Linked DNA regions of Homo sapiens. The protein of the gene in region 1 interacts with the protein of each later gene in a pairwise test. Each region holds a gene or a part of one and is shown in the gene's direction. Other genes may lie near its edges.

Evidence for each region.
Region 2: the proteins of TMEM52B (region 1) and TMEM50B interact in binary tests that used the Homo sapiens proteins (3 or more experiments, as listed by UniProt).
Region 3: the proteins of TMEM52B (region 1) and MAL interact in binary tests that used the Homo sapiens proteins (3 or more experiments, as listed by UniProt).
Region 4: the proteins of TMEM52B (region 1) and FXYD3 interact in binary tests that used the Homo sapiens proteins (3 or more experiments, as listed by UniProt).

What each region holds. Positions count from the first base shown.
Region 1 is NC_000012.12:10,173,908-10,182,583, forward strand, and holds the start of TMEM52B (transmembrane protein 52B isoform 2 precursor), read left to right. Parts: upstream 1-5,124; 5' UTR 5,125-5,667; coding exon 5,668-5,721; intron 5,722-8,642; coding exon 8,643-8,676.
Region 2 is NC_000021.9:33,455,528-33,463,236, reverse strand, and holds part of TMEM50B (transmembrane protein 50B), read left to right. Parts: intron 1-2,731; coding exon 2,732-2,824; intron 2,825-7,139; coding exon of another isoform or gene 7,140-7,222; exon of another isoform or gene 7,223-7,233; intron 7,234-7,452; coding exon 7,453-7,510; exon of another isoform or gene 7,511-7,511; intron 7,512-7,709.
Region 3 is NC_000002.12:95,021,429-95,029,061, forward strand, and holds the start of MAL (myelin and lymphocyte protein), read left to right. Parts: upstream 1-4,279; 5' UTR 4,280-4,364; coding exon 4,365-4,457; intron 4,458-4,911; exon of another isoform or gene 4,912-5,005; intron 5,006-5,130; exon of another isoform or gene 5,131-5,601; intron 5,602-7,633. UniProt on the Homo sapiens protein: May be involved in vesicular trafficking from the Golgi apparatus to the cell membrane. Plays a role in the maintenance of the myelin sheath, and in axon-glia and glia-glia interactions.
Region 4 is NC_000019.10:35,111,385-35,118,930, forward strand, and holds the start of FXYD3 (FXYD domain-containing ion transport regulator 3 isoform 1 precursor), read left to right. Parts: upstream 1-4,438; 5' UTR 4,439-4,575; exon of another isoform or gene 4,576-4,656; intron 4,657-4,879; 5' UTR 4,880-4,975; intron 4,976-5,872; exon of another isoform or gene 5,873-5,921; coding exon of another isoform or gene 5,922-5,994; intron 5,995-6,615; exon of another isoform or gene 6,616-6,740; intron 6,741-7,105; exon of another isoform or gene 7,106-7,215; intron 7,216-7,546. UniProt on the Homo sapiens protein: Associates with and regulates the activity of the sodium/potassium-transporting ATPase (NKA) which transports Na(+) out of the cell and K(+) into the cell.

The sequences.
Region 1 (8,676 bases):
GGTGTACTGTTCAGTGGCATTAAGTACATTTACATTGTTGTGCAGCCATCACCACCATCCATCTCCAGAACTTTTCATCTTCCCCAACTGAAACTCTATACCCACCAAGCAATAACTCCTGTGATGGTGAATTTCATGTGTTTTGTTTGTTTGTTTGTTTGTTTGTTTTTGAGATGGAGTTTCACCCTTGTTACCCAGGGTGGATTGCAATGGCATGATCTCGGCTCACTGCAACCTCCGCCTCCTGGGTTCAAGCAATTCTCCTGCCTCAGCCTCCTGAGTAGCTGGGATTACAGGTGCCCGCCACCCCTCCCGGCTAATTGTTTTGTATTTTCAGTAGAGACAGGGTTTCACCATGTTGGCCAGGCTGGTCTTGAACTCCTGTCCTCAAGTGATCCGCCTGCCTCAGCCTCCCACAGTGCTGGGATTACAAGCGTGAGCCACCGTGCTGGCCTTCTGTGTCTTCTTGACTGGGTCATGGGGTTCCCAGACAGGATGCTTTTAAATGAGATTAACATATTAATCAGAAGAGGAAAGTAGATTTCGCTGCATAATGTAGGTGGGCCTCATCCAAAAGTTGAAGGCCTAAAGAACAAAAAGCTTCTAACCTTCCCCCAAATAAGAAAGAATCCCCCAGCTGTCTATGGACTGGAACTCAGCCATCAACTCTCCCAGTTCTCCACTCGCTGGCCGAGTCTGGCAGCCCACACTCCAGATTTTAAATTACCAGGCTCTATAATCATACAAGCCAATTCCTTATAATAAACCTATTTCTATGTATGTACACAGCGTATTGATCCTCTTTCTCTGCACAGACCTAATACAAATCCCAATTCCTTTCTCCTTTCTTGGAAACCACCGTTCCATTTTTTTGTTTCTATAAATTGGTTTATTTTAGGCACCTCATACTGGTGGAATCATATAATATTTGTCCTTTTGTATCTAAATTATTTTATTTAGCATTATGTCTTCAACAATTATCAATGTGGTAGCATGTGTCAGAATTTTGTTCCTTTTAAAGTCTGTATAATATTCCATTGTATGTATAAACCACATTCTACATTTTATTTATCCATTGATGGACGTTTGGGTTTATCCTGTTTTTAAAGATCAGTGGGATAGTTTCTACAGTCCTTGTGTGGCAGATAACTGGACAGATTTGAAAAATTTTAGAGGGCTCTCATTATTCCTGCCTCCTGGTGTTCATGATCTTGTGTAATCCTTCCCCTTGAGTGTGAGTGAGACCTATGACTTGGAGTGTAGCAGAGGTGCTGGAATGTATGTGATCATCTACGTGTGCTTATGTAAGGTATAGTGACTATTATGCTAAAGTCACTCTCCCTCTCCTATTTCCATCTTTATCTCCCTGTCTAGATTTTTAAAAGCAAGCTTAAATGGATCCTGCAGCCATAGAGAAATAAATTCTGCCTGAGGGAGCTTGCAAGTGAATCTTCCCAGGCTCACCTGAGAATGCATGATGAGAGTGCAACCCAGCAGCCACCTTGACTGCAGCCTTGTGAGACATCAAGCAGAGGACCCAACTAAGTTGTGCCCACACTTCTGACTCACAGATACTTTGAAATAATAAAAGTACATTGTTTTACCTTGCTGCTCACATAATTTGTGGTGATGTGTTACACAGCATATCAACCTAAAACATTCTATGATAAACTGAATCCTTCTGTCTTGTTTAACTTTTTTAACTCTAATCTTTTTACTGATTTCAGTGCCTTTGAAGCTGTCACTCAATCCCTATGCTGTGATCTTGGCTTATCAGACAGAAACACTTCCCAAGGGATCTCCCAAGGGTTGCAAAGATGAAACTTCTTCTGCTATATTATTTATTTTTGAAATCAGGGCTGTGGCCCTACCCACTGACTTATAGTTTGAGGTTGATGCCTCAGAGTCCTGGCCTCTATTTTATTGAGGCACAGAGAGGAAAGAAATCCATAGTTGGCCACCTGACTTAGGCAAGGTCAAAAGGAGAATGATCAGTGGAACCAGAAGTAAGCAATTTGTTTGGCTACACTTGTTACACCAGTTGTATAACAATTCCCTGAAGCATAGGTGTAAAACTCTATGTACATGCACCCTCTACTGGTTCCACTCCAAGTCCTTAACTACCTGGACATAAGCTAATGATTCACAAGCTTAATGGAACTGCACAAGATTGTATAGGATTGTAATGAGACCATTTCCCTCTATCCCAGCTACCTGCCCTTCTGTACCTGTCCAAAGTGTACTTCGTTCAGTCTTCTTGTCTGAATTATCTTTCTTCTTTCATCATTCCCTATATGGAGGCTTGGTTAGGGACAGGATTCAGAGTTAAAGCTGCCCCAAGGCATAATCTCATTCATTAGGATAAAAACAAACTTTTATCTTTCCAGGGACTAATCTGGTGAGAAAAAAAAAAAGGGTAGTAATAATTCTAAGAAAGGAAAGTCACAAGGAGGTCATTAACAGAACCTATTTTGTTCAAACCTGTTTGGAAGCTGGAGGGCAAAAAGATGATGGCAATTACGTGTTAGAAAAGTGCAATGCGAGCGGGGAGTCATGTTAACCAGCAAACCTGTTTAGGCAGGTGAAGGCTGGCGTGGTTGGGAGAAAAGGTGGCCAGGCTAGCAAGGAAAAATATTCAAGAATTAGAATATCAGGAGACTAAAATGTGGTCTGGAGAGGGAATGGTATAAAAATATACAAGAGAAGCATAAAGGACAGTAATTATCCAGAATCTTGAAAGTAAAGGTCACTGGTAAACTTTAGTGAAAATCAAAATAATCTTAGCAAACACAAAAAATATCAGGACTGTTATATTCATTTTACACACATTAACTTATTTAATCTGTATAAGGCTATCAAGTAAATATTACTACTATTACCCCCATTTTATATAAAATGAAAATGAGCCAATAGAGGTCTAATAACCTGCTCCAAGATCACACAGCTCATAAGTGACAAAACCAAGTATTTAAACCCAGGTATCCTGGCTAGGCTTTAGGTCTTGGTGCTCTACTGTCTTTCTGTCAAGAAAAAGAGAAGGGAAAGTTTCATGATGGGTTCCCTACGTACAGGGCACTCATGATAGAAATATCCTATTCAAAATGCTTTCCTGTCTCTTATTTTATTTTCTCTAGGAAATAACATCTAAAGCAGGTCAAGTGGGTATTCTGCTCCTGTTGTATGAATGGGAACGTTAAGGACTGGAGGAATTACATAATAATTTAGTGGAAGGCCACCTAAAGCCCTGCTCTCCTTGTCCTATAAAATACCTTCCACCTTGCCAAGTCTTCTACTGAAATCTGGAAATCACCCTTCATCCTAACCCCAGTTGCCTAATTTAAAAAAATAAAAAATAAAAGACTGTCAGTGCTCATTTCGTCTTGAAACTGACAGATTTTAAATCACCAGTATGGTACCAGGCCATTTTCTCATTATTTGTTTTCCTTAGCTGAGAACAAAACCAGTTTATATCCTGCATTCTCATATCCCATCATCAAGCTATGTGTGAGGACCCTTAGAGTATGATCAGCTCACCCAAGAGTCTCCCTTCCACAATCACTCAGCATAATTAGATTTACTGAGCTAGAAAGGTCCTGAAAGGAGGTTTTATTCAATTCTTATGAGATAGATATATCACTGTAAACTAACTTCTACTTTTCTTATCCCAGCCTGGCCAATATGGTAAAACCTTGTCTCTACTGAAAATAGAAAAGTTAGCTGGGTGTCGTGGCAGGTGTCTATAATCCCAGCTACTCAGGAGGCTGAGGCAGGAGAATTGCTTGAACCCAGGAGGCAGAGGTTGCAGTGAGCCGAGATTGCACCACTGCCCTCCAGCCTGGTGACAGAGAGACTCTGTCTCAAATAATAATAATAATAATAATAATAATAATAATAATAATAATAATAATTTTTTTATTAAACATTTGGTATTAAGTAAAAGATCACCTACTTAAGTATAAATCATTCATACAGCATTCTTTTGTTTCTTTTAATATTTTGCTTTTTTGAGGCAGATTCTCGCTCTATCACCCAGGCTGGAGTGCAGTGGTGTGATCTCGGCTCACTGCAACTTCTGCCTTCCGGGTTCAAGTGGCCCTCCTGCTTCAGCCTCCCAAGTAGTTGGGATTACAGGTGCCTGCCATGACACACAGCTAATTTTTGTATGTTTCGTAGAGAAAGGGTTTCATCATGTTCTCCAGGCTGGTCTCAAACTCCTGGCCGAAGTTATCAGCCCGCCTTGGCCTCCCAAAGTGCTGGGATTACAGGCATGAGCCATGGCACCCGGCCACATTTGTGTCTATAGCTTTGTTTCATTGTAAGTATTCTAGGCCAGGCACGGTGGCTCACGCCTGTAATCCCAGCACTTTGGGAGGCCGAGTCGGGCGGATCATGAGGTCAGGAGATCGAGACCATTCTGGTTAACATGGTGAAACCCCGTCTCGTCTCTACTAAAAATACAAAAAAACTTAGCCGGGCGTGGTGGTGGGCGCCAGTATTCCCAGCTACTCGGGAGGCTGAGGCAGGAGAATGGCATGAACCCAGGAGGCAGAGTTTGCAGTGAGCCGAGATTGCGCCACTGCACTCCAGCCTGGGTGACAGAGCAAGACTCCGTCTCAAAAAAAAAAAAAAAAAAAGTATTCTATGCTTTTGCATGTGTGCTTGTTTTTACTCTAACCTTAGGTTTTATTTTCCTGAGTGACAAGACTTATTTCTCAATCACATCACTCCTTAACCAAAGAGAGAGAGAGAGAGAGAAAGAGAGAGAAAGAAGGAACAAAGAAAAGGCAAGAAAGAAAGAAACCTATACATTTGCTTTTTTAAAATTTGGTTTTAAAAAAATGTCTTTCTCAGTTATCTATTTCAATGGGAAGTGAAGTCAGGGAGGAGGAAGATGTCACTGATAACACCTGAAAATTCTAATCTTCCGACTTGATTTCTCATCTTCAAGTCTGTTTTCTCCAAAGATGAGATGGCTTTCCTGTTCACTTGGCAACCTCTCAGTCTTACCCCAATGCTTAGGGATATAAATGACCCAGAACCAGGAGAGTTGATTATCAACATAGTGAAGGGGAGGGTTTCAAAGAGCAAGAAGGGGTTGTTAGTCACACGGAGAGAGAAGAAAGGAGATTAGCAGGGTGACTTTCACCCTGCAACAGTCACGCTGGAGTACTCTGGTGAAGGATCAAGAATATTACCAGTTTTCTGATGAAGAAAGGAATATATTTGGTCACCAGCAATCTGCCTTTGACCATCCTCAAAGCCAAGTTTTTCATCGCTGTCTAGAAAAATACTTCATTCAGAGGACACATATGTCCTCTTTGAATGTCTCCTTTTTGGGAGCAGTAGGAGAAAGAAACTTCAAGATGTAGAAAGAATTAATAGTGTAACGGAAAGAAAGAAGGCAAAAGGAAGTAAATGTGGAGGCCATAGAAATAGTAATAAGAATAAAGAAGAAAAACAGGAAAGAAGAGGGAAAAGCCATAGAAAATAACAGCCAGAGCGAGTAGGAGGAGACAGAGAGAACGAGAGAGAGAAAAGCTGATAAATTCCTGAGAAAAGTTTCTCTTCTTAAGAATTCTAGGTCAAGAAGTAAAATATGGCACAGAGCATTGAAAGGAGGCAACGGATGCCCAGTGCAAGATTCTGAAGAAGCAGGAATTCAGCCCGATGGGAGTCCGAGTTCATGTCGTGGCGGCCTCAGCCCTGCTGTATTTCATCCTGGTGAGTTCAGTGGTGAAAAGGCAGAAAGAGTATTTTTCCCCAGATTAATCAACTCTCAGAAGAGTCTGAAAGGAAATGAACTGCGGGGTGGGGAGACATATACAGAACCCAGGGGGTCATAGGGAAATGAATAAACTACAAAGTTTCCTTAGTATTACGAGATTGCATAGATGCATGTGTGACTGATGGCAATGACAATGAAAAGGGGGACAGAAATTAGAGTGAGCATGGAAACGAGCAGGATTGCCGTGGCACTTTAGAAGTGCCGCTGAAGTATTTTATCTCTTTTAGCATCTTATCACCCATCCCTCAAAATTCCAAACAAATTATGAAAACTAGGTGTGTAATTCCCCTAAACGGAATTTCCCATCCAGGAATTTCTAATCCTGTTCTAGCAGTTTAGGTGCCTCTAGTCTAGAAATAAGAGAGGCAGGGCTCTTTTAAAATATTTTGGGCCCCACAATGAATCAGAAGTCTCTGAGTAATCCATTAGTGGAGAAAAGGGTCACTGGACTGAGGGATTCTAAACAATTGTCACAGGGAAGTTTATAGAGCTATGCCATCTAGCAAGAAGGAGAGCAAATGAAGAAAACTGGATAGTCTCAGATTCCCGTATGGCCCCCGTACAGAGTGGGCTGTATGGTTTGTTTTTTTTTTTTTTTTGCTAATAGAACAGTTAAAGTGGTATCTGAAAATCCATTTTTTCTTATATTTTCTTTTTGCTTCCTCTTCACTCCCTTTGCCTTGTCTTCCCTTCATTTTTCCTTTCTTTTCTCTTTGCAACAAGCCTGAAAAGTAGCATTTTCTCTGCTGAGCACTTTAGGCTTCTCTTACCTTTAGTGAAGAAAGTGAAAGAAAGTACCATGGTTGCGTAGAGGAAACACACGCTTTTTCATCGTTAGTGGCCATTTCTTTCCAATGAAAACACAAACACGGGTTTCTCAAATGTTACCTGCAAAGGCTGGCCATTAATCCTTTTACAGATCCTTTCCAACTGATAGGTCTTGAGAATGTGTGTCTCCTTACCCCTTCACTACCCGCCATAAACTCCCAATAGTTACAAATCTGTTTCTTTTCTAGGGCCTTTGTGGTTGCTTTCCTGAAATATCAGATCACTCAGGTTATTAGAAGACAGAAGCAACTTCTAGAATTGAGTTTACTTAAATGGTTTGTTGTTGTTGTTGTTGTTGTTTTTAAACGGAGTTTTGCCCTTGTTACCCAGGCTGGAGTGCAGTGGCACGATCTTGGCTGACTGCAACCTCCGCCTCCTGGGTTCAAGCGATTCTCTTGCCTCAGCCTCCCAAGTAGCAGGGATTGCAGGCATGCACCACCACGCCTGGCTAATTTTGTATTTTTTTAGTAGAGATGGGGTTTCACCATGTTGGTCAGGCTGATCTCGAACTCCTGACCTCAAGTGATCCACCCACCTCGGCCTCCCAAAGTGGTGGGATTGCAGGTGTGAGCCACTGCACCCAGCCTTGAATGGGTTTTTGAAAGAGGAAGTCAACTAAAAAATCAGGTAGAAGAAAGAGTGGACAGTTTTGTTTGTTTTTTTGTTTTCTGTAAAGGGAGTAGAAGGGACTTCATAGCAATGTCAAGGAATTGTTAGAGCAAACTTGTCCCCAGTGCTATTAATTCATCCAACACATATCTATGATAGAGTTTGATTTGAATTCTGTCTGCATCAATAGGTGTGTACATTTGGTCACTTTTTTTTTTTTCCAAGATGGAGTCTTGCTCGCCTAGGCTGGAGTGCAGTGGCATGATCTCGGCTCACTGCAACCTCCACTGCCCGGGTTTAAGCAATTCTCCTGCCTCAACCTCCAGAGTAGCTGGGATTACAGGCGCACATCACCACGCCGGGCTAATTTTTGTATTTTTCGTAGAGACGGGATTTCACCATGTTGGCCAGGCTGGTCTCGAACTCCTGACCTCATGATCTGCCCACCTTGGCCTCCCAAAGTGCTGGGATTACAGGCGTGAGCCACCACGCCTGGCCTGGTCACATTACTTAAAACCCTGTGCCTTAGTCCCTTAACCTTTCAAGATAAGGTTAAATATACCCACCAAGAGGGTTATTGTGATTAAATGTTATGAAATATTAAGAGTTCATGGCCGGGCGCGGTGGCTCACACCTGTAATCCCAACAGCACTTTGGGAGGCGGAGGTGGGTGGGTCACTTGAGGTCAGGTGTTCGAGACTAGCCTGGCCAACATGGTGAAACCCTGTGTCTACTAAAAATACAAAAATTAACCAGGCGTGGTGGCACGTGCCTGTAGTCCCAGCTACTCGGGAGGCTGAGGCAGGAGAATTGCTTGAACCCGGGAGGTAGAGGTTGCAGTGAGCCAAGATCACGCCACTGCACTCCAGCCTGGGTGACAGAGCAAGACTCAAAAAAAAAAAAAAAAAAAACAAAAAAAAAAAACTTGTTAGCAGTCTGAGTGGCATCTAGTAGCTATTCGATAAATAAGACTCTCTGTCCCACTGGCCCCCTCGCTTTTCCCCTTCTTCCTTTGTATAGTCATTGTCACACTAACAGGATAAAAAAAGAGCAGTGGTGTAGAATTCAACTGGGCAGGAATTAGGAGGACAATGGCAATATCCCAAGGGACAGAGAGATCAGGAATTTTCTACTACAAACAAATTAATGTAAATGGCTACCTCTCATTCACAAAGGGTGATGCTCACCCACCATCAACACAACAGATGAGATATTTGTTCTTCAAGGTTCCCTTACCTCAAGTACAAAAGCCAGCAAGTATGGGAGAGATGAAAATGGCAGTCCTAAATAGACTGCCCCTATGACCGTGACCTTCTTACTGCTTGATCTAACACAGCACAACCATGAGAGATGATTGGTAAGCAGCTGAACACAGTGGCCAAAACAATTTCCCTGTATAAGACAATTTCTCTTTCTACAGCTTTCTGGGACGAGATGTGAGGAAAACTGTGGTA
Region 2 (7,709 bases), on another chromosome or scaffold:
CATTGCATCCTCCGCCTCCCAGGCTCAAGCAATTCTTCTGCCTCAGCCTCCTGAGTAGCTGGGATTACAGGTGCCTGCCACCACGCCTGGCTAGTTTTTGTATTTTTGGTAGAAACTGGGTTTCACCATGTTGGCCAGGCTGTTCTCAAACTCCTGACCTCAGGTGATGCACCCGCCTTGGCCTCCCAAAGTGCTGGGATTACAGGCATGAACCACCATGCCCAGCCTTCTACCTGATGCTTTAAATGCTGATGTAGATTTTGTAACCTCACTTCTACTGGAATCCATGGAGAATTTGCGAGAGGGTATAATGACAAATGACAGATGAGCCTAAGTTTAAAGTGCACAATATGTGTGTGTATGCGCATGCGATCGCGCTTACTTTTCATCATATCCTGTATGTCAGCCTCAGCAGTAATGTCAGGAATGAGGGAAGGTAAAGAAAAAATATATATTAGCAAGTGAAGATGTTGTATGTAGAGCATACAATAATGTACTCCATCATTTTTCTTTCAAGAATATTCCACGGACATTGCTGTGAATTATGTTACTATTATCTTTTTTTGAGACGAGGTCTTGCTCTGTCTCCCAGGCTAGAGTGCAGTGGCATGATCATGACGCAGAAAAGCCTTGAACTCCTGGGCTCAAGCAATCCTCCCCTCTCAGCCTCCAGAGTAGCTGGGATTACCGGTGTAAGCCACTGTGCCTGGCCACTATTATCTGTTTTTTATAGGAAGTTTCACTGTAACTTATCCAAAGTTTTTTAGCTTAAAAGTGGAACCTGTATTTGTCTTTGGTCTGTCTGGTTCCCAAGCCCGTCGTTTTTACCCTAAGTGATTATTATATTTTATTCTATGATATTCCCTATTCTATTAAAATTAACAGTACAGTTTATATTTTTATATTGTGCATATAGTGCAATTTCTGTTTAGTGTTTCAAAAATTAAGGACAAACTGTCTTATAGTCATGCCCAGGTATTGCTACTCTTAAGCTTTTGTACTGCTTAAGTGGTTTATCTGTAAACTATCTCTATTTAGTTCCCGGAGGAATTAATAGGAAAGTATCAAAATAATAAATATACTATAAATGAAACAGCTAAATAATAAAACTATAAAAAAGAACAGGAACTAGGTAGAAAAATGATCATTGTACTTAGAACCTGGGACAAGATGGATGCTTTTAATTGTTCATTAACCTTAACTCAGAGCTTCCTTGTAGCCAAAGCAAACAAGAGAAAATGTTACAGTTTTATTTTTTTGCTAAACAAAAGCATACTTCTTTTTCTTTTTTTTCTCTTTTTGTTAATATGCCCTCAGACATACTTACTTTACAAGAGAAATTTTTTTCTTGTTTAATTCTATTAGAAAGTTTAATGTATATAGCCATAAATAAAGGACATGATGGAAAATAATTGTAAGGATTTTTTTTTTTTTGAAACAGTTTTGCTTTGTTGCGCAGGCTAGAGTGTAGTGGCATGATCTTGGCTCACTGCAACCTCTGCCTCTCAGGTTCAAGCAATTCTCTTGCCTCAGCCTCTTGAATAGCTGGGACTACAGGCACCCGCCACCAAGCCCGACTGATTTTTTTTTCTTTTAGTAGAGATAGGGTTTTACCATGTTGCCCAGGCTGGTCTCGAACTCCTGAGCTCAGGCAATTAGCCCACCTTGGCCTCCCAAATTTCTAGGATTACAGGTGTGAGCTACCATGCCCCGCCTTTAAGGATTTTTAATAGTTCCTTTTATTCACGTTAGATAAAAGCTATGATTGAATATAATTTAGAGATTGTATTTCTCCAAAGAACTAAACATTACTGTTTATTTCTGGAGATCTGCTTAGTATTGTAATAAAATTTAGATAATATAGAGACCTATTTCTCTCAGATATCAGCTGTTCTAACCATTATGAACTTTGATCAGTGCTTCTTCCTTATCTGGTGTCTAAAATGAATCTTTTCCCTGGTAACAAAATATTTGCAACTGAGGCAAATTTAGTTTTCTGTTATGGAAATTGGCTAGGATTTTATTTTTACTTCAGTGGAGCTTTCTTCCCCTTCCAGAGGTTGATGGGGCTGTCAGTATACCTGTGAACAGGATCTGGTGCAAGTATTAACCTGCTTTCCTAAAAATATGTTGAATCTACTCAAGTGTCCAGATGATTTACATTATCGAGATCTAGAATTTTGTTCAATACAGGGTTGAAGAGATACTTCTGATCTTGAAGTTTTCATGAATATGTGGTACAGATTGGCTGCCTCAGCAATAAAAAAGCCTGAATATACTCCTAAAGAATGGCCGTTATTTGTACCATATTGAATAATGGTGTGATTATAGAAGCTTACCATTGATTAAAAAGGGACATATTAGTCCTTCTTCATTTGAAGTCTCTCATTCCTATGTGGTGATGGCTATCCAGAATACATGTGCTACTTTTAATAGAGCAATTATTTTGGTAATATATACAACAGTGTAATTTTTTAATTAGGGCATTCGTTTCTCTAGTCAGTAAAAAGGTAACTTTCTTTTTTTCCTTTTCCATGTATGGTTTAACTTCTTTTAGTGTTTTTTTTTTAAATCATCATTCATTTAACTTACAGCAGATTTATATAAATATATGACTATCTTTGATATGCATAATATATACTAGGCTAACAGGGCTCCTAGTATTATGTATTCCTAAGACGTTACAGAGCTGCAAAAATGAACAAAATCATAAAGCCTCTTCTCTACACAGGTGCTCGAGTTTGGCTTTTCATTGGTTTCATGTTGATGTTTGGGTCACTTATTGCTTCCATGTGGATTCTTTTTGGTGCATATGTTACCCAAAGTAAGTATATATTCTTCTTGTATTTTATAGGAGAGATTCAGATATGTCTTTTATATTTGGCTTACTCTACCTTGAGTACAACTTAGTATAATTGTTCACTTAGATTGAAGATACTGCTCTGTGTGAAGATACATGAGTTTAATAAAACTTGTCAGTGGGAACACTTAGTGCAGTAGGATAGCCCTGGTTAGGAAATCCAAGCCACTGACAAAGCTGGTACCTCTCAGCTGTCTCCAGACTTTCTGCTTTCCTTCTTTACCTTAGACAGCCAGGATTTTATGCTAGAGGCCCATTTACTGGGAGTTGCAGTAGAAAAAGTGAGAAACCAGTACAGGTGTACACTCCCTTATATACAATTCTAAAATCCACAAAATGCTGAAAATCAAGTTATTTATAACTAGTCTGGCAGCAAAACCTGACCTAAACTGACATGGAGCTCACTATTTTCTTTATCCCATTTAGTGTAAGTATTCAAATGTTTTATTGTAGGAATGAAAATAGATATATTAGATTATAGGATGTGCTTGTCTATACCCAGCTGGCGGTGCTATGTAGTATATGTGCTTTCCCTTACTGTTCTTAAACCTGAAGAATTCTGAATCCCAAAATATATCTTGCCCCAGGGATTTCAGATAAGGGGTATAGACCCCTTATCTGATAATCTATGGATTGCCAGTAGATAATCTTTCGTTTCATTGACACCTTCTCTCTCCAACCTAATCCTGTAATTTTTTTTTTTTTTTTTGAGACGGAGTCTCACTCTGTCACCCAGGATGGAGTGCAGTGGTGTGATCTCGGCTCACTGCAACCTCCGCCTCACAGGTTCAAGTAATTTGCCTGTCTCAGCCTCCCAAGTAGCTGGGATTACAGGTGCACGCCACCACACCCAGCTAATTTTTGTATTTTTTTAGTAGAGACAGGGTTTCACCATGTTGGCCAGGCTGGTCTCAAACTCCTGACCTCAAGTGATCCACCCATCTTGGTCTCCCAAAGTGCTGGGATTACAGGTGTGAGCCACCATGCCCAGCCAATCCTGTAATTTTTAAGTCATGGGTACAGGGGGAGTTTTTTAAGGGCAAGACTGAACACATATGTATACTCTTCATACAGAAACAGCTGATGGAGTGGGATGAGCTCTTATTACACCATGCTGAAATCTGTGGCTCTGCCAGGTGCCATAGCTTTTCATTCACAGTAGTGATGAAAAATAGAACCCAGTTTCAGAAATGTCTCTGGAAGCGTCGGAAGACTGTTTCACTGGCCCTCTTCCTTTGCTCCTAAGACAGGAGTCAGTTTCAGAGAACGCAATTTATTCATCCTCTGACTCCTCTACCTCTGGAATCTCTTTGTCAGCCTTCTTTGCTTAACTGTCACATCTCCTTGTCCTGACTCACAGCTGGTTTTTGAATACTTTTGATAGTATCATTTAAGTCTCATAGTTTGATCAGTATAAGATCTTTGGAATACTTTTGTTTTTCTTTTGTCTTTCACTTGATACAAAATAAGTCAGATTACAAGAGGACAGTGGTTGGCTTAAATAACATTGGTCACCAACTGTATCTAAAATGTGTTTTTTAGTTAATTAAAAATACTACTAGAGCACATAATTCTGGTATGAAGCATATCTGAAGGAAAATGCTTTTTTAAAGATAGCTTCATTGAGATATAATTTGCATACCATATAATTCAGCCATTTAAAATATGCAGTTCAGTGTTTTTAGTATTTTCACAGAATTATGCTACCATCATCACAATCCAATTTGAGAATATTTTTATCACTGCCATACCCATTAGCAGTCACTCCCCATTACTCCTTCCCCTAGCCCTAGGCAGCCACTAATGTACTTTCTGTCTGTATCTATTTCATACACATGGAATCTTATAGGAAAGTGTTTTTTTGAGACAGAACCTTGCTCTGTCGCCCAGGCTGGAGTGCAGTGGCGTGATCTCGGCTCACTGCAACCTCTGCCTCCCAGGTTCAAGCAATTCTCCTTTCTCAGCCTCCTAAGTAGCTGGGACTGCAGGTGCATGCCACCACGCCCAGATAATTTTTGTATTTTTAGTAGAGATGGGGTTTCACCATATTGGTCAGGCTGGTCTCGAATTCCTGACCTCAGGTGATCCACCCACCTCAGCCTCCCAAAGTGCTGGTATTACAGGCGTGAGCCACTGTGCCCAGCCGGAAAGTGTGTTTTAAACTCATTTTATCCCTGACTGTAAGAAGGGTGGGCTGCTGTCACTGATTTTCTTAAAAGGTCTCCATAGTTATGTTAAAGAAAAACTTTAGATAAATTAGCAATTTGAGCAAACCAAGAAGAGGTTCGGAGAGCTTCACCCAGCAGCATGAGCAGCTGTAGGCTGAACACAAGGCAAAGACAAGAAATTTTTAGATTGTCTGTAGCTATATGTTTGTCTTATTTGTGCATGGTCTCATCAGTTGGCTGCTTGGGATTGGCTAAAGCTTAGCCGTTTGTGATTGACTAAAATTCAGCTATTTATTAAAAAATATAACCCTAGGTTTCAGTTCGTTTACGTAAGTTAGGTTCCGGGGGGTGGGTTGGGGTCACACAGGAACTCAGAGTAGGGAGATAGCCTCAGGTTAATGGCTTCCTGCTTATTTACTTTAGCAGTTGAAGTGATCCATGAGCTTTACAGTTTCTATAGTGAAAATAGGGATAAATTGCCATTTCTGTAAGGTATGTAGGGAAATATTGTTTGTAAAGGCTTTACTATTGTTGAGTGTATTTTTTTTTTTTTTTTTGAGTTGGAGTTTCACTCTTGTCGCCCAGGCTGGAGTGCAATGGCACAGTCTCGGCTCACTGCAACCTCTGCCTCCCGGGTTCAAGCGATTCTCCTGCCTCAGCTTCCCGAATAGCTGGGATTATAGCCGCCTGCCACGACTCCCAGCTAATTTTTTGTATTTTTAGTAGAGACAGGGTTTCACCATGTTGGCCAAGCTGGTCTTGAAGTCCTGATCTCAGACGATCTACCCACCTTGGCCTCCCAAAGTGTTGGGATTACAGGCATGAACCACCGCTCCCAGCCAATTGTATCTTAATATTTAAAGAACTAGTAAATATTGATAAATTTCTTGATTGTGAATTTCATCTTTCTATTTCAACAGCATTACTCATTTAAATATACTTTTCTTTTTTTTTTAAGATGGAGTTTCGCCCTGTCGTCCAGGCTAGAGTGCAGTGGTATAGTCTTGGCCCACGGCAACCTCTGCCTCCTGGGTTCAAGTGATTCTCCTGTCTCAATCTCCCAAGTAGCTGGGATTACAGCCATCCACCACCACACTTGGCTAATTTTGTATTTTTAGTAGAGACAGGGTTTCCCCATGTTGGCCAGGCTGGTCTCAAACTCCTGACCTCAAGTGATCTACCCGCCTCGGCCCCCCAAAGTGCTGGGATTACAAGCGTGAGTCACCACACCCAGCCTAAATATACTTTTCTATTTGTAAAGTGAATATGACTTTATTTCAGAGAGCATTTCTAGGCCATGTTTCAAATCTTTTACTGTACAGATTTGCTTGAACTATTAATATTCATAGTAATAGCTAACTTTTATATATTACTTTATAGGCTAGATACTGTTCTAAGCACTATATAGAGTCACTCATCTAATTCTTACACTCTGGAGTAGGTGCTATTACAATGCCCGTTTTACAGGTGAGGAAATGAAGATATGCTGAGGTTAAATAATTTGCCCAAGGTCATACAGTTAGTCATTGGTATAGATAGGATTCAAACCTGGGTCTGGCTCAAACTTGGAGCTCTTAACCATGCTGCTGTATTGTTTGCTATGATATCAAGAGCTCAGAATTGAACCAGTTTCTTCATCTTCTCCAGTATTTTTTAAATCAACATTTGTAGTTTTACAAAAGTTAATAATCCACAAAAATTTAAGTAGTTTCCATTTTGTTTCTTTTCTTTTCCTATAAAGATAGTAACCATTTCCTCCAGGATAGATTCAGTGAAAGAGAATGATAAATTCTAACTGTGTTATTTATATCTGACATATTTGCATGATAAAACTCCTGGATTGAGAGCCAGGCATTGTGGTGTGTGCCTGTAGTCCCATCCACTTGGGACGCTGAGGCAGGAGGATCACTTGAGCCCAGGAGTTTGGGCTGTAGTTTGCTATGATTGTGCCTGTCAGTAGCTGCTGCACTCCAGTCTGGGCAATATAGTGAGGCCCCATTTCTTTAAAAACAAACACAAAAAACCTCTTGAATTCATGAAAGAAAATAAATTAACAGACTGTTTAAAAGTCAAGAATTTATTTTGTATGTTTTTACGATTTTGCATTTCAGTGTTGGCCATAGGAGGCAAAGGAGCAAGTTACTGCTTCCTCAGCAGTTTTGATGTAGCTAGAACCAGCAATTACTTTGACTAAAAGAAAACTTTGTAAGTTCATTGACTTTTATCCAGAGTAAGAGCAGTCCTTTGCTTTGGGGGAATTAAATTGGCATTTTCTTCTTTCAGTTTCATTATAGATGTCTTACAGTTAATGAATAATAGCAGTATGTTGTAATATACAAAATGTATCATTATGAATGGCACTGATACTTTATTACTGCCGTTTGCCTATATAACCGTCTAATCTGTTTTACTTTGTGTATGTAGATACTGATGTTTATCCGGGACTAGCTGTGTTTTTTCAAAATGCACTTATATTTTTTAGGTAAGTTGCCTTATTTTTTAACCACGCCTGTAACATTTACAGAAATGTCAACTTAATTAAGGCAGCATATATATGGAACACATATAAATCCCATGGATTGGTTACAATGATAGAACTTCTTTTAAAAGGTGAGAATTCCACTGTTACATAAGAGCAGAGAGGCCTTTTAACTAGAGGTCTTGCTGTGTATCAAGACTTT
Region 3 (7,633 bases), on another chromosome or scaffold:
AACTTTGTTCTAGAACAGTTGGTCCATGTGCCACCTACTATGATCTGAATGTCTGTGTCCCCTCCCCAAATTCCTATGTTGAAATCCTAACCCCCAAGATGATGGTATCAGGGCTGAGGCCTTTGGGAGGTGATTAGGTCATAAAGATGGAGGCCTCATGAATGGTATCAGTGTCCTTAGAAAAGTGGCCCCAGAGAGACCCTTCACCTCCTCCACCCTGTGAAGACACAGCAAGAAGGTGCCGTCTGTGAACCAGAAAGTGGACCCTCAACAGACACGGAATCTGCAACACCTTGATCTAGGATTTCCAGCCTCCAGAACAGTGAGAAACAGGCTCCTGCTGTTGACAAGCCTCCTGGTCTACCGTAGTTTATTACAGCAGCCCGAACAGACTAAGACACCGTCTCTGAGCACTTTGCCTGCAGTCATGGACAAAGCATGCCCAGCACAGGCCCTGACCAGGTGCCTCTCAGCCTCACGTGCTGTCCCTCTTGGAAAGAGCTCTCCTAGGGAGCAGGGACTCTGTCTTTCCTACTCACACACCCTCTACCCTCCATCCCCATCCACAAGTCACCCAGACAATGCCAGCCTGTTTTGTGCTCAGAATATCATGAGGACTTTGTCGGACAGTGGCAGAGTGCCACATCTCCCTGGTTCTAGAAAACATGATCCTACAAGAGGGTGGGGAAAAGAGCACATGCGGATCATTGTCCCTGGAGGCAGTGGGCACACGGAGCCCATGGCCCATCAAAGGACAGTGCCCTGGTGAGCAGCCACCACTTCAGATTTTCCAGTTTGTGGATTTTGTGCAGTAGACACAGAGCCTGCCTGCTGGAATCAAGAGGCCTAGTCACCAGCCATGTGGCCTGCGCACATTACCTCCCATTCCTAGCCTGTATGTTGGGTGACACCCACCAGCAAGCCTCTGTGGGATTAAATGAAGCCATGCAGGCAAAGTGCCTGTGGCAGTGCTGGGACTCAGCAAGCCCTCAGTAACAGGTTCCCCTCCTGCGCTGACGCCATGGCAGCTGTGGCTGCCATTCCCCCATCCGCCAGCAGGTGCCCTCACTGCTTCATGCCTTCTATGGAACCCAGGGCTGTGGGTGACTGTGTCTGTGAGAAAAATAAAATCCCTAGGGGGAAGTGCGCGTTCAGGGTAGCTCTCTGAACTCATGTCGGCACCCGGCCTCGCCATCCATAAATGGGGATGATGACCCCCACTTCCTTGTGTTCCCAGAGGTGAAGGTCCCAAGCCCTGTCCACCAGGGCAGGTGCCTGGGGCCACACCTGAGATGACCATGAAGACTGGATTTGGGAGGCTGCCGATGTCTGCATGGAGCTGGCATTTGACTGGCAATTGCCCATCTTGAGCAGGGTTTTCATCGAGGGCTCGGAGCTTTAGAGGTGCAGCGTCACTCAGGTTCAAGGTGCTCAGCAACTCTGTGCCCTTGGGCAGCTACTTAACACTTCTGAGCCTCTGTTAGCTCATCAGTAAAATGGGAGTCATCTTACCTACCTCAAAAACCAATGCACCTACTGTTACGGATGGGCAACTCCTGCCCATTAATCTTTCCCTGAACACGTCCCTCTCCCCACAATCTCCTCCCTCCCCCTGAACACACACAAACTGGAGGTGGTAACCTCTTCCTTCCCCAGGCTGGCTCTGCAATGGCAACTTTCCAATTCCTACTTTGTGGAAACCCACCCAAGGCCACGTTATTAATATTTGACAGAAGCCCCAGACCCACCCTCTTATTCACACCCACTGGGAAGACCAAGGATACTCACTGAGTTATTATTGGCTGAAATTATTTTTTCATATCCTGCTGGAAACCAAAATATGGTCCTGGGCTTCTGATAAGTATCAACCACCTCATTCACCAGCAGGTGGCCCAGAGCACCTGCAGAAGCTGTGCTGGGGAATGAAGACAGGCCCATCTTTACTTACCAATGCCTCTCTCTTACCAATGTCTCTCTCTCTCACCAATGCCTCTGTTTTACAAATGCCTCCTCTCACCAACGCCTCTCTCTCTCTCTCTCACACACCAGTGCCTCTCTCTCACCAGTGCCTCTCTCTGTCTCACCAACGCCTCTCTCTCACCAATGCCTCTCTATTTACCAATGTCTCTCTATTACCAGTGCCTCACTCCTCACCAGTGCTTCTTACATCCAAACAGGGCACTTCCATGTCCTCCTCTGGTGGTCAAGCACAGACAAAGCTGGAGTCATCCACCATTGGCTAAGGTTTAATGAGCACTCACCAGAGGCTGGGCTCTGCTTGGGTGCTGAGCATATGCTAGGGTGGGGAAGGAGAGGGGCAGATGGGGGTGGCTGGAGGATGCCCTGCCGAGGGTAGAGTCTGGTCAGGAAGATGAACGTCGAGCGGAGAACTCCAGGTGGGAGGAGGGGGTCACAGAGATAGGGACAAACCCCCTTGACCCTGGCCGGGCTGCCTTCCTCATCCTCTGAAGCCTCTTTCAGAGATTGCTGCCCCTCTGCCTTATCAAAGGAGGGCTGGGACTGCTGAGCTCCACTGAGTTGCCCCTGGGAGCGAGCTTTCCCCAAAGGCTCAGGCCCAAGTAGGAATGAGTTAGCAACAAAGGCTTGAAATAAGTAGGAAATCACCAAACCAAACCACAAACAAAAGCCCTCCAGGCCAGGTAAGGACATTATTAGGAGTTGATAGGATCTTCTTGTTCTTAATTAGTATGTGCTGATAGGAAATCTCCAAGCAGCTTTCGCTGGACTGCCTGAGGGTCATCTCACCTCTCTTCAGGCTGCGGCTTCCTGTGGCCACCTTGCTTTAAGGCTTGTTCCCAGGACGGTCTCCTGGGGAGGAAGAAGATGTCCTCTCAGAGGCCAGCAGGTCCAACTAACGAGCTATGAGATGCCCAAGGTGGATGAGGACCTGGGCTCCTAAAGTCCCACAGCCCATTGTGTCCAGAGAGATGCTGCCCTGGGGACCCGACACAATGGCACCTTGGTTGCAGCCGTCCGGGCTGGCAGCTCACAGAGGCACAGTGGGGTTTTCTCATTTCAAATGCCTGGCCCCTTTCCAGAGGCACTTAGAATGGCCAGCTGATGGGCGTGCTACTTTTGCTTTGGAAAATGCGTCCACGAATATACTTCTCTCCCTAGGGACTGGGAAGGAGGAAGAATTGTGCAGCAGGGAGAGGTGAAGGCCCCACTGGAGAGAAGGGGAGCCCCTTGTCCTGCCTGCAGCAGCTGCCAATGGAAAGAAAGAAGAGTTGGGAGTCTAAGCTGGAGGTTGCGGGGCCAATTCCCTTTTGGCAGGCGAGAATCCGGACTCGGGCGGATTTCAGGCTTCAGTGTTTGTAGGAGGAAACACAGCAATCACACTATTAATAGTAAATTAAAATAAATGGGCAACTGCTGCATGGTAATACTTTTTTTTTTAAGGCAAAAAATAAAAAATAGTGAAACAGAGAAACAAAACATGAAACACCGGCAGTCAACAGGCAGGCAAAGAACCTGGGGGTGGGGGTAGCAGCGGTCCCACCCTCAAAAGGCCCGGGCTGCCCAGACCAAGAGAAAGCGATGAATCTCTTCTGGTAACGTCCCTTCCTGTCGCATGGATTCAAGGCCGACCTGCCCCAGCACCACCACCAGCAGCCTTCTGCTGGGGCCGGCACAGCTGGGAGCAACCTCCTACTCTCAGGCAGACGCGCAGCACCAAGCAGAGAGGCCCGGTGCAGGATCCCAGCGCCGAACCAGCGCCGGCTCAGTGGACGCGGAAGGGGCCGGCGGCCGCGGCCGGTCCCATCCCCCACTGCAGACCCCCAGCCTGTGGCGGTGGTCCAGTTCCGCCAGGAAACCGCCGCCTGGAGCTGTGGGTCGCGCACATTAACGCATCCAGCGGAAAAATGAAGGAGACCCAAATTCAAAGTTAAAGTAATGGTGACCCGAGAGGTGCCTTGATGAGAAGGTTTGGGGTCCCGGTTACTGATGGTTATCATTCTTACGAGATGCTGGTCACCTACGAAGGGAGAAAGGCACGAGGAGCGCCTGACCAAAGTGGTTTTGCCCTGCTTCCCGCAAGAGGTGGCACCCACGGCTGGAACGCAGGAGTCAGACCCACAGTCCCCAGCTCTGGACGCCCGCAGCGGGGCCTCGAAGAGGTTCAGGGCGGTGCCCGCGGCGCTCGGGCCGGGTCTCCCGGGGCGTGGGGCGGGGGGCGGGGTTGGGCGGCGGCCGGGGCTCCTCCCTCTTCTGCCCCGGGCTCCCCTGCTCTTAACCCGCGCGCGGGGGCGCCCAGGCCACTGGGCTCCGCGGAGCCAGCGAGAGGTCTGCGCGGAGTCTGAGCGGCGCTCGTCCCGTCCCAAGGCCGACGCCAGCACGCCGTCATGGCCCCCGCAGCGGCGACGGGGGGCAGCACCCTGCCCAGTGGCTTCTCGGTCTTCACCACCTTGCCCGACTTGCTCTTCATCTTTGAGTTTGTGAGTGGCTCCTGGCCGGGGAAGGGACGGGGTGGGCTGAGCCGTGCGCTCTCTCGGGCGCCCAGCACAGCTGTCGGACGGGATCCGCTAGCTGCGCAGGTTCTGGGAGCATCGGGGCAGCAGGCGCAGGGCGGGGACTAAGCCAGGGAAGTCCCCTCCCACCTCCGGTCCTTTGTGCCCTTCTAGACCAACAGAATGAGGGGAACAGTCTACAGGACTATGGAGGAAAAACTGGGTTCCCAACTGGGGTCAGATGTAGGCAGCGGGGCAGGGGGGGACGGCTCTTGGTTCGCTGGTCCCAAAGCTGCGCGCGGGGCCCACTTGACGCGCGCAGCGCCACCGAAGCTCCCGCCGCGCTTTGCGCGGTTGGGTAGAAGTGCGCAGCTTTTACAAGGGAGAAGGTTTCGTTAAAAAAGAAAAAAAAATCAGCAAGAGAAACATTAGTATTACCAACCGAGATTTGGAGATGAGAGGGAGCTGAATCCGGTTTATTTTCTTCTGGCCTTTTAAAGTTTCTGGCGAGGGAACGTATTTGCGACCAATTCGATCTGGAAATGAGGCCATCGTTTGCTTGGCCGCAGTCCTTCTGCCCCGTGTGCGGGGTGGGGGTGGAGGAGATGGGGGGTGGGGGGTGGGGGGTGGCGGCGAGAGCGATCCGCGCGCCTCGACTGACCTTGGGCAGGCCCGGGGCCTCTGCACCTGCGGTCGGTCCCGCCTTGCACGCACGGTCTCTGCCTGAGGCTGCAGGAAAGCGCTTCCTACTGAGAACTCCTGATAAGCGCTCACGGTGTCGCGAAGCCGAAGTGACCTCCCTCAGCCTCAACTCCCCGGGGGCCGCTGGCCTTCACCTGGGAGGGGTGTGCCCTGTATGTCCTGTGGGTGCGGTCCGTCACCGCCTGAGGGACACCTTTTCCGGCACCCCACCCTCAGAAGTGTCAGCGTGGAGAGTTGGGCGGGAAAGAAAATGTCGGAGCCTGGCTGTTTAAAAATTGGACCCCAGGTTGTTATTGCCTGATTGGAGGGGGAGGGTGTGAATACCAAAGGGAGCAGGTCAGTTCATCCAAAGAGGGCTTGCGGGCAGAGGCTAAGAGGGCTGCGGCGGCCTGGGAGCAGGGCTACCATTGAACTTAGGGTGAAAGTCCAGTCGAACCCAAACCTGGGTGGAACCGGTGACTTGAAATCCTAGGGATAGGCGGAATCAAAGCAGTTACATTTAGAAGAAACCCTGGACGCCAATGAACGCAGCCCCACCGTTTACAGAGAGCCAGCCCCCCGCTGGCCTCCTTTTAGAAGTTCAGCATACAAGAAGGAGTGCCCCTGAGAGTAGGAACAGTCCAGTTAGACGGGGCGATCTGATCTGCGGGAAAGGTGACCGGAGACTCCCACCCAACCCGCCAATGCTGCAGAAATTACAGGGGCGTGGGAAACCTTGGAACCATCTACTACTGGCAGCTTGCTCTTCCAGCGTGGCTTTGTGGCCTGCCGGTAGCGGGGCTTCCAGAAGAAACAACTCCCCCTCGCCCAGAACGCTTCTCTCAGCTGACTTAGAAAGTCACTTCTCCACCTCACCCCTGTTCCCCACCTCCCTTCCTCACTTCCCAGGAGACCCGCAATGCATAGTCATCTCCAGGCATCTTCCACATGCTCTAGATTAGGGGTGGGCTCGCAGGTGCCTGGGAGAGAAGAGGAGAAAGCTGACCCCAAGCCTCTCAGTTCTCCTCTGCATGGACTGTAAATACGAAGCTGTATATATTTGATGTGTGGAAGGAGTGGAGAATTAAAGGGCCTGAGAAGGCGCTGGCCACCCCGGGAGAGTTTTTGTTTTTGTTTTTGTTTTTGCTTTTGAGACGGAGTCTCGCTCTGTCGCCCAGGCTGGAGTGCAGTGGCGCGATCTTGGCTCACTGCAGGCTCCGCCTCCCGGGTTCACGCCATTCTCCTGCCTCAGCCTCCCAGCTACTCGAGAGGTTTTTTTAATTATGGAATATTACAACTCGACAACAAAAAGACAACCCAATTAGAAAATGGACAATGGACTTGAACAGAGGTTTCTACAAAGAAGATACACAAATGGCCAATATGCACATAAAAAGATGCTTAACATCATCAGGCATTAGGAAAACTAAATTGAAACCACAATGAGGCCAGTTGCGGTGACTCACGCCTGTAATCCCAGCACTTTGGGAGGCTGAGGTGGGTGGATCACCTGAGGTCAGGAGTTCGAGACCAGACTGACCAACATGGTGAAACCCCATCTCTACTAAAAATACAAAAAAAAAAAAAAAAAAAAAAAACCCGGCTTGGGTGGCTCATGCCTGTAGTCCCAGCTACTCAGCAGGCTAAGGCATGAGCATCGCTTGAACCTGGGAGGCAGAGGTTGCAGTAAGCCGAGATCATGCCGCTGCACTCCAGCCTGGGCAACAGAGTGAGACTCGGTCTCAAAAAAATAAATTAATAAGTAAATAAATTAAATAAATAGAAAGAAAGAAATCACAATGAGATACCACTTCACACCCATTAGGATGGCTACTATCCAAAAAACGGAAAACATCAAGTATTGGATGTGGAGAAATTGGAACCCTTGGTATGCCACTGGCGGGAATGTGAAATGGTTCAGCCACTGTGGAAAACAGTTTGGTGTTCCCTCAAAAAATTACCCTCTGACCCAGCAATTCCACTCCTGGGTATATAACCAAAGGATTCCAAGCAGGGACTTTAGTATTGGCACATGCATGTTCATAGCAGCAGTCTTCACAATAACACACAGCCCAGTGGCCATCAGCAATGAACTGAATAACAAAGTGCGACATATCCAAACAATGGATACTACCTGACCATAGAAAGGAATGAAGTACTGATACGTGCTACAAAGTTGATAAACCTTGAAAACTCTATGCTAAGCAAAAGACACAAGGCACAAAATGTCATATAGTGTATGATTCCGTTTATATAAAATACTGGAATAGATAAATCCATAGAGACAGAACACAAACCCTGGTGGTTTGCCAGGGACCAAGGGGAGCAATTGTTTAATCGCTATGTGGTTTCTTTTTGGGGGTAATGAAAATGCTTTGGAATTAGATTGAGTTGGTGGGTGCACAACACCATGAATGTACTAAATGCCACTGAACTGTCAACTTAAAATGATTGGTTTGATGATATGTGAATTTCACCTCAAG
Region 4 (7,546 bases), on another chromosome or scaffold:
ACTTTTCCAGAGATGCTGGAAACACAGCTTGTCCTGCTGTTTAAATGTTTGCAATTATTAATTTTTGCAATGCTTTGTAAAAACTAAAGGTACAATAGTTGGGTTCCACCCTGGGACCGCCAGTTTGCAATCCTTCTCTTAGGGACTGAGTCAGGCTGGGGGGGGGGGGCGGGCTGCAGGGCTCCCACTTGAACCAGAAGTCCCTGTCCCAGATGTCTAGCTCCAAATGTGTTCCCTGCCCTTTCCTGCTTCCCTGTAGTTCCTGCCCGCACCCAGGACCCCCAGCCATCTGCCCAAGCCCTCCCCACCCCCACCACGCCGCCCCCACTCCCCACATGATGGGGAAGCTGGCCAAGACATTCATTCCTCCACACCCCCTGCCCCCATCAGCAGCTCCACCCTCAGCACCCCCACCTCAGCTCCTCCTGCAAGGCCTCCGTGGATGGGGGGTGGCGGTGGAGAAAGCCTTTCTTTTATAATTGTTTTAAACCTACTTTTATTTTTATTTTTGTAGAGACAAGATCTCTCTATATTGCCCAGGCTGGTCTTGAACTCCTGGACTCAAAGGATCCTCCAGCCTCGGCCCCCCAGAGTGCTGGGATTACAGGCGTGAGCCATGGTGCCCAGCCTGGTAATTAACAGATACTTCGTGACCACCCACTATGCACCAGGCCCTGTTCTATAATTCAGATGAAAATCCCTGAGAGGAGCTGACGTGCTAGCAGGGGAGGCAGATAGCACCACAAAAAAAAAAAAAAAAAAGCAAACAGAAGTCAAAAGGTCATAGAGAGGTCAGGGGGTAGGTGCGATGGTGGTCGGGGAAAGCCACTTGAACCTCATGGCTTTGAGCTGTCCAGATGCGGGAGAAAAGAGAGCCAGGCAAGGGAATAGGCATTGCAAGGGCTCTTGGCCAGAAACATGCCTGGAGTGATCCAGGAACGGCAAGGAGGCCCAGGTGGCCGGAGCAGAGTGAGTGACAACAGGGGTTAGGGGGAACCCTGAACCTCCCCTGAGTTTCCCTAGTCTGTAAGATGGGGGTCTCCAACCGGTGGCCCCAGGGCCTTATCCAACCACTGGATATTTTTCATTCTGTCTACAAAGTGTTAAGAAAACGAAGTTACCAACATTTAAAAATCAGGGCCGGGTGCAGTGGCTTGCACCTATAATCCCTGCGCTTCGGGAAGCCAAGGTGGGAGGATCACTTGAGACCCAGAGTTCAAGACCAGGTTGGGCAACATAGCGAGACCCCCGTCTCTAAAAAAATTAAAAAATTAGCCAGGTGTGGTGACGTGCATTTGTAGTCCCAGCTACAGGGGAGGCTGAGGTGGGAGAATCACTTAAGCCCAGGAGTTGGAGGCTGCAGTGAGCCATGATTGGACCACTACACTCCAGCTTGGGCAACAGAGCAAGAACTCACCTTAAAAAAAAAAAATCCGGAAGGCCGGGCTCGGTGGCTCATGCCTGTAATCCCAGCATTTTGGGAGGCTGAGGCAGGCGGATCACTTGAGGTCAGGAGTTGGAAACCAGCCTGGCCAGCACGGTGAAACCCCGTCTGTACTAAATATACAAAAATTAGCCGGGCGTGGTGGCACACACCTGTAATCCCACCTACTCGAGAGGCTGAGGCACGAGAATTGCTTGAACCTGGAAGGCAGAGGTTGCAGTGAGCTGAGATCGTGCCACTGCACTTCAGCCTGGGCGACAAGAGCAAAATTCCATCTCAAAAAAAAAACAAAACAAAACAGGAGATTTCATCATAAAAATCTCCATTTCTAGCTTCTGTGGGTGAGTGATGACGTCAGAGCAGCACAGAGGCAGGTGTCAGGGAGCCTGTGGACTCTTGGCCACTGTGTCACCTCACATGGCTCCTGGAAGCCAGGCGGACAGTGATACGTCCACAGCCACACCATCCCCATGGTGGTGGGACAGGGTTACCTGCCAGTGCCCACTCTTCTCCCACAGGTGCTGAGACCACAGCGCTGTTCCACAAAGCCCCAGGAAGCCACATTACCCTGTCCACCGGCCTCTCTAGCCCCATCTTGCCCAGGAAGTGGGACCTTGGCGTATCGCTGTGACCACACCTCCCAGCCGGTCAGCCTGGCCGCTCAGGCTCTACCTGCAAAGGCAAGGCCCCACCCAACCAGCACCCCTCTCATGGCTGGGGGTGCCTCCAGGCTGCCCTCTCTAGGGCCAGGAGCCTGCAGAAACGCTCCCAGCCTTGAATAAAGAGCAACGAAATTATTGAAACAAAATCAATAAAAGTTTGAATCAGGGATGGTATAACATGCTCTGGCTTTGATTCTGTGCTTTAATTCAGCGTTCCTGAAAAACTTATGATGTCAGAAACTATCTGTAGGTTTGGTTTTTTTCATTTTGCAAGAATTCCCAGGATATGGAGAAATCACAGCCACTCACAGCCTTAACAGGTTCTTTGGGCCCAAATGATTCCAAAAGCAAAACGAGAGAAACTTTTTCAAATATGTTTATTATGTATATTATATACAATATATTAATAAAACATATTACCTACATGCATTTAAAACATAACTGAAGTCAGATTGGCCCAGAAGACTCACTCCAAATGAGACCTAATCCCCAATAGGGTGCAAGTGACTGCACAAACTCTACTCCTCACAGCCCTTCCTAAGACTCAGTGTGCTCATCACACTAGGGTCTCAGAGTCCTTCTGACCATAAACCCAAGCCCCAGCGCCAGCCCAACACACACTTGGACGCAGCATGTTCACGTCCAGCCTAGGAAGAATTTATGGTTGACCTGGATTGGGTAAAAACCGTAAACGTCTGTACCTCAGAATGTAAGATCATGGTGTTTAAAACTACAGAACATTCAGAGGTTGTCAGAAGTCTCTAATTGCTGGTCCCCCAGGTTGAAACCAGCCCTTAGGTTGAAATTTTGACCTGCAAATTTTTTTTTAAATCTGAACCAAATTTTTTAAATTAAACCCCTTTAAGGTAGTACATTTTCAAGATGCAAAATTCAAAAAATATAAGAGGGCACGTGATAATGAGTGAGTCTCACTTCCACCCCACCCTCCAGCCTCCCAGTTTCCCTCTCCAGAAGCCATGGGTATGGATGCCAATCTCCAAAAATATTTTATTCATTACAAGTATATACATATGCATTATTTTACCGCTCACAAATGGTAGCACACTGCACGGTTTCCCAATACCTTGTTTTTTTTCCCCTTAGCAAGCTGTCTGGGAAATACTTCTGTATCTAACCACGGGCAGGGGTGTTCCTCCAAGATTTTTAGACAACAGTTCTCCAGTTCACCCCGTTCCGGTGAAGGGCAGAGCACCCCCCGCCCTTCCCAGCCACCCTGTACACGCCCCTACTCGCTCTCGGATGCCTGCAGTTCCCAGGCTTCCCAGCAGAGGGAGACACCATTCCACTCCCAAGACCACCAAGGGGTCGTCCCAGACACAAGCTTCAAGGGTCTAGGGAAGAGACGCTATCCGCCCAGACACAAAGACCCCCCTTAGCTATACTGAGTTGGCCTCCGGGCCTCCCCTTCCTGTTTCTATCTCCTCCTGGACCTGTTGCTTAGAGCCCTACCCCGAGGTCCCCCCGCCCGGCTTCCTTATGGGAACTGGCCCCGCCTTAAGAGTGGTAGGAGGGAGCCTTACCCTTGTCTAGGACCTGGGCTTGACAACTTGCCCCAGGGAACCACATAGAGAAGGGGTGTAGCGCTGGGCGAACATTGCCCTCCCCGATCCCTCAGCGATGACAAGTGGGGGGTCCTTCTCTCTGCCCCCAGCAGGCCAGTTTCCGGAAGAGCCTTGACCCAAACCCCCTTTTCCTGTCCTGTGCTCCACACTCCCAGCAGCTGCTTCTCCCTGGCCAGGCCCTGCAGCCCTCCTCCCCGCCCCCACGGTGGTGTTGGGGTCGCCTGGAGTCCAGCTGGTGTCCAGGGCAGAGCTACCCCTTTCCTGGCCCTACCCCTCCCCGTGACCCCAATCCTCCGCCAACCGCTCAAAGGATCCTTGTTCTCCATCCAGCCCCCAGACAAAAGTCCCTCTGTCTAAGAAGGCGGAATTGAGGGGAGGGGGCACCCCCAACTGGGACCATGGGGGAGCCTGCACAGACCCCATCCGGAAGGAATGCCTGGAGGAGGAGGAGCAGGAGACAGGGGAGGAAAGGGGGAGGGAGGCTTGTACAGTGCTGGGGGCCTTATGTGGACTAGGAGGCAGCCGCCCCCACCAGCACCCACTCTGTAGACCCAGGCGTCTGGCTCCCAGCACCCACGGAAAGAGCCTGGCTAGGAAACTGCAGCCTGGTGCCTGGCAGACAGTTCTCATTCTCCCCAGGGCAGGGAGCAGGTTATGACCAGGACTAAGGTCCCAGAGTCCCCACCCTGACCCCTCCCTGCTGTTCCAGCCGCTCCCTCATATCCACCCCTGCCCCATCTCCTGACTTTGGTCACGCTAGCATCTTCTGCTGATCCTGAAATTGTACCAGCGGCAAGATGTGGCCTGGAAGGGGACTTTAAGTTCTCCACAACTGCCAGCAATCCTTCCACCAGGCAAAACACATCATCTAAGGAAAAGAAGTGAGGTCGGAACACCAACGCATCATCTCACTGCATGGCCCTGGAGGCTCTGCCGTTTAAAGACCCCAGAACCTTCCCCATTCAAGGTCCTCTCCTGGGCACAGGAGATTGGAGAAAGCTCCTCCCTTAATTCCAGGGGCCGAGTTCCAGCCCATCCAATTCTCCGTCTCACCTGAGGCTGCTGTGGTCCTGGTGACCCCAGGGAGCAACCTGCCGCCCATGGCTGGGGAGGGGGTGAAGCTGTCTCTTTAAGAGCAGGAATGGAGCCCCTGGGCCTCAGGGCATCTGACTTGTTTTCTACCTGCCCAGGTTTGCTTAGGGCGTGGCAGCTTCGGATAAACGCAGGACTCCGCCTGGCAGCCCGATTTCTCCCGGAACCTCTGCTCAGCCTGGTGAACCACACAGGTGAGCAGCTGGGGCCCCTTCCTCCAAGCCCTCCTTGTCTCTGCCCCTAAATTAGGAAGTATCTACCTGCCCCCTGACCCTGCCCCATAGAAGCTTTTATGTTAAAGCGCCTAAAATCTTGTGAAATGCTTTTCTGGAGCCAGGAGATAAACGGAAGTCCCTTCCCCTAATGTCCCTTTCCCCACCATTCTCCTCTCAGGGACTTGTTGAACCAGCTGAGGTGAGGGCAGGACTGATAAGTGTGGTTGGGGTGTCTGAAAGACTAGTGTCTGCATGGATTAGGGATATCTGGGTTGGGGATAGCTGGGTGGAGGAGAGGGGGTGCCTGGGTAGGTAGGGGTATCTAAGTGGACCAGGGGTGCGTAGATGGACTGGGGACATCTGGGTGGATGAGGAATGCTGGGTGGACTCGGGGTGTCCAGACATTGAGGGATCTGGGTGGATAAGGAGTGCTGGGTGGACTCGGGGTGTCCAGACATTGAGGGATCTGGATTCTGGAGACCTCCAGGAAAAAAGGATGGAGCTGCTGGGGGAAGCTTTAAATGGGGAGTTGCTTGGGAGATTTCAGGAGCACACAGCGGGCAGGATCTTTCTACCCACCCCTGAACATGAGACCATTCTCCCATGGTATGGAGGAATAGAGGGGATAGCAGAGGGCAGGTGGGGGAAACAGTCCTCAGGCCGGCCTTGGGACCTCATGGCCAGGAAGGATGAGAGCAGGTAGACAGAGCATCAGCTGCAGGGCTGCCTTCCTCTCTAACCTGCTCACCAACCACATCAGTTCGGGAGCAGCCCACAGCCTCTTCAGACAACAGCCTGAATGGGGAACGTGAGGGCAGACCCAGCTCCCGGCTCCCTGCAGCCTCCGGAAGCATGGGACTGGACGTTGTTTTGCAGAGGCTGGGGCGAGGAGGATACCATCTGTCAGTCTTGGCTGGATGACATCATGGGAAGGGGGTATAGTGGGGCCTTGCAGGCCAGAGGTGGCTTGGAGGAGCCCCTGGAAAGAGGCTTAAGAGGTGAGACTCAACAGCCATGGCGACAGAGCATAGGGCTTTAAGATGAATTTGCAGGGGTTACAGGATTACAACTGCAATGTGGGCTAATAATAGTGCCCCCTGCATTAAGCTGCAGAGATTGAGCGAGTAAGTGGGAAGCTGAGAAAATGCCCCCATGGGGTAGACACTCAATAAGCATCTGCTGTTATTACCAGGACTCGTATGGTCATGGGTGACAGCTTCAGACCACAGGCAGTCCACCTACAACCTGTGCCCCTATCCAACATGCCATCCTGCCCACCCACCCACGCCAGCTCCCCCAACCCCCAACACTTTTGGGGATCCTAAACACTTCCTGGGCCTCAGTAATGCTCCCCAAAGCCTCAGGCTTTCTTCCCGCAAAAAAAGGAAAAGAAATGGATGCTCCAACTAAAATTGTGAGTTCAGCATGTGGAATTAACTGGGAAGCTGAGAGGATTCCCAGGCCCTGGGGTGCCAGGCAGAGGGAGGAGTCTGTGCCAACCTGCAAGGACCACCCGCACCGTTGGTTGCGGGCACCACCCTCTCTCAGCATTTTTGCTGTTCGTGAAATGAGGACATAGTGGACGACGTCGGGGATTGCTGGGGGGTTAAGTGAGTGAGAACACGGCAAGGTCAGTGTGCACTCCAGGGCAAGGTGGAGGAAGTGCCAGCTCTCGCTATCAAAATTATAACTAGGCCAGGCGTGGTGGCTCACACCTGTAATCCCAGCACTGAGGGAGGCCGGGGTGGGTGGATCACCTGAGGTCAGGAGTTGGAGACCAGCCTGGCCAACACAGTGAAACCCTGGCTCTACCAAAAATGCAAAAATTAGCCGAGACTGGTGGCACACGCCTGTAGTCTCAGCTACTCAGGAGGCTGAGGCAGGAGAATCACTTGAACCCAGGAGGCAGAGGTTGCAGTGAGCTGAGATTATGCCATTGCACTCCAGCCTGGGTGACAGAGTGAAACTCCGCCTCAAAAAAAAAAAAAAAAAAAACAATTATGATAACTATGCACTCAGCATTTGGGCAGGGACAGGGCAGGGACAGGGCAGGGGAGGGCATGCTCGGAGGCCAGGGCTTGGTGCAGCCTTGCAGGCTGGTGAGAGGGCAGGACTGATGCCAGGTCAGGAAGGAGAGAGAAACGAGTTCCTTATGCTGAGCAGGTCTACCTGGGAAAGAGAAAGTGTTTGCTGTCACCAGGAACTCTGCTGGGCCTAGGGTAGGGTCAGGGGCTGGGCTGGGGACCCCGGCTAGGCAGAGCCAGGGCTGGGACCGGGAAGGGCATGGGTGTGGGATGAGGGGCAGGAGGTTCGGGGGAACAGAGATGGAGCTAGGGCTGCAGCCAGGAGGTAGAGTCCCCCTCTACCCCCAGTCCCAGCCTCACGTCAATTCCTCCACACACCACCCCACCCCCAAGCAGCTTGAAGAACCTGCTCAGTCCTCAGCCTGAAGTCTGCAATGTCCTGGCAGGGCCGGGCAGGCTCTGAGCGGTCTACGGAGACACTCCTGGGAAGCGGGCCTCCTGCCGCCTGGCTCCCAATGCCCCGCTT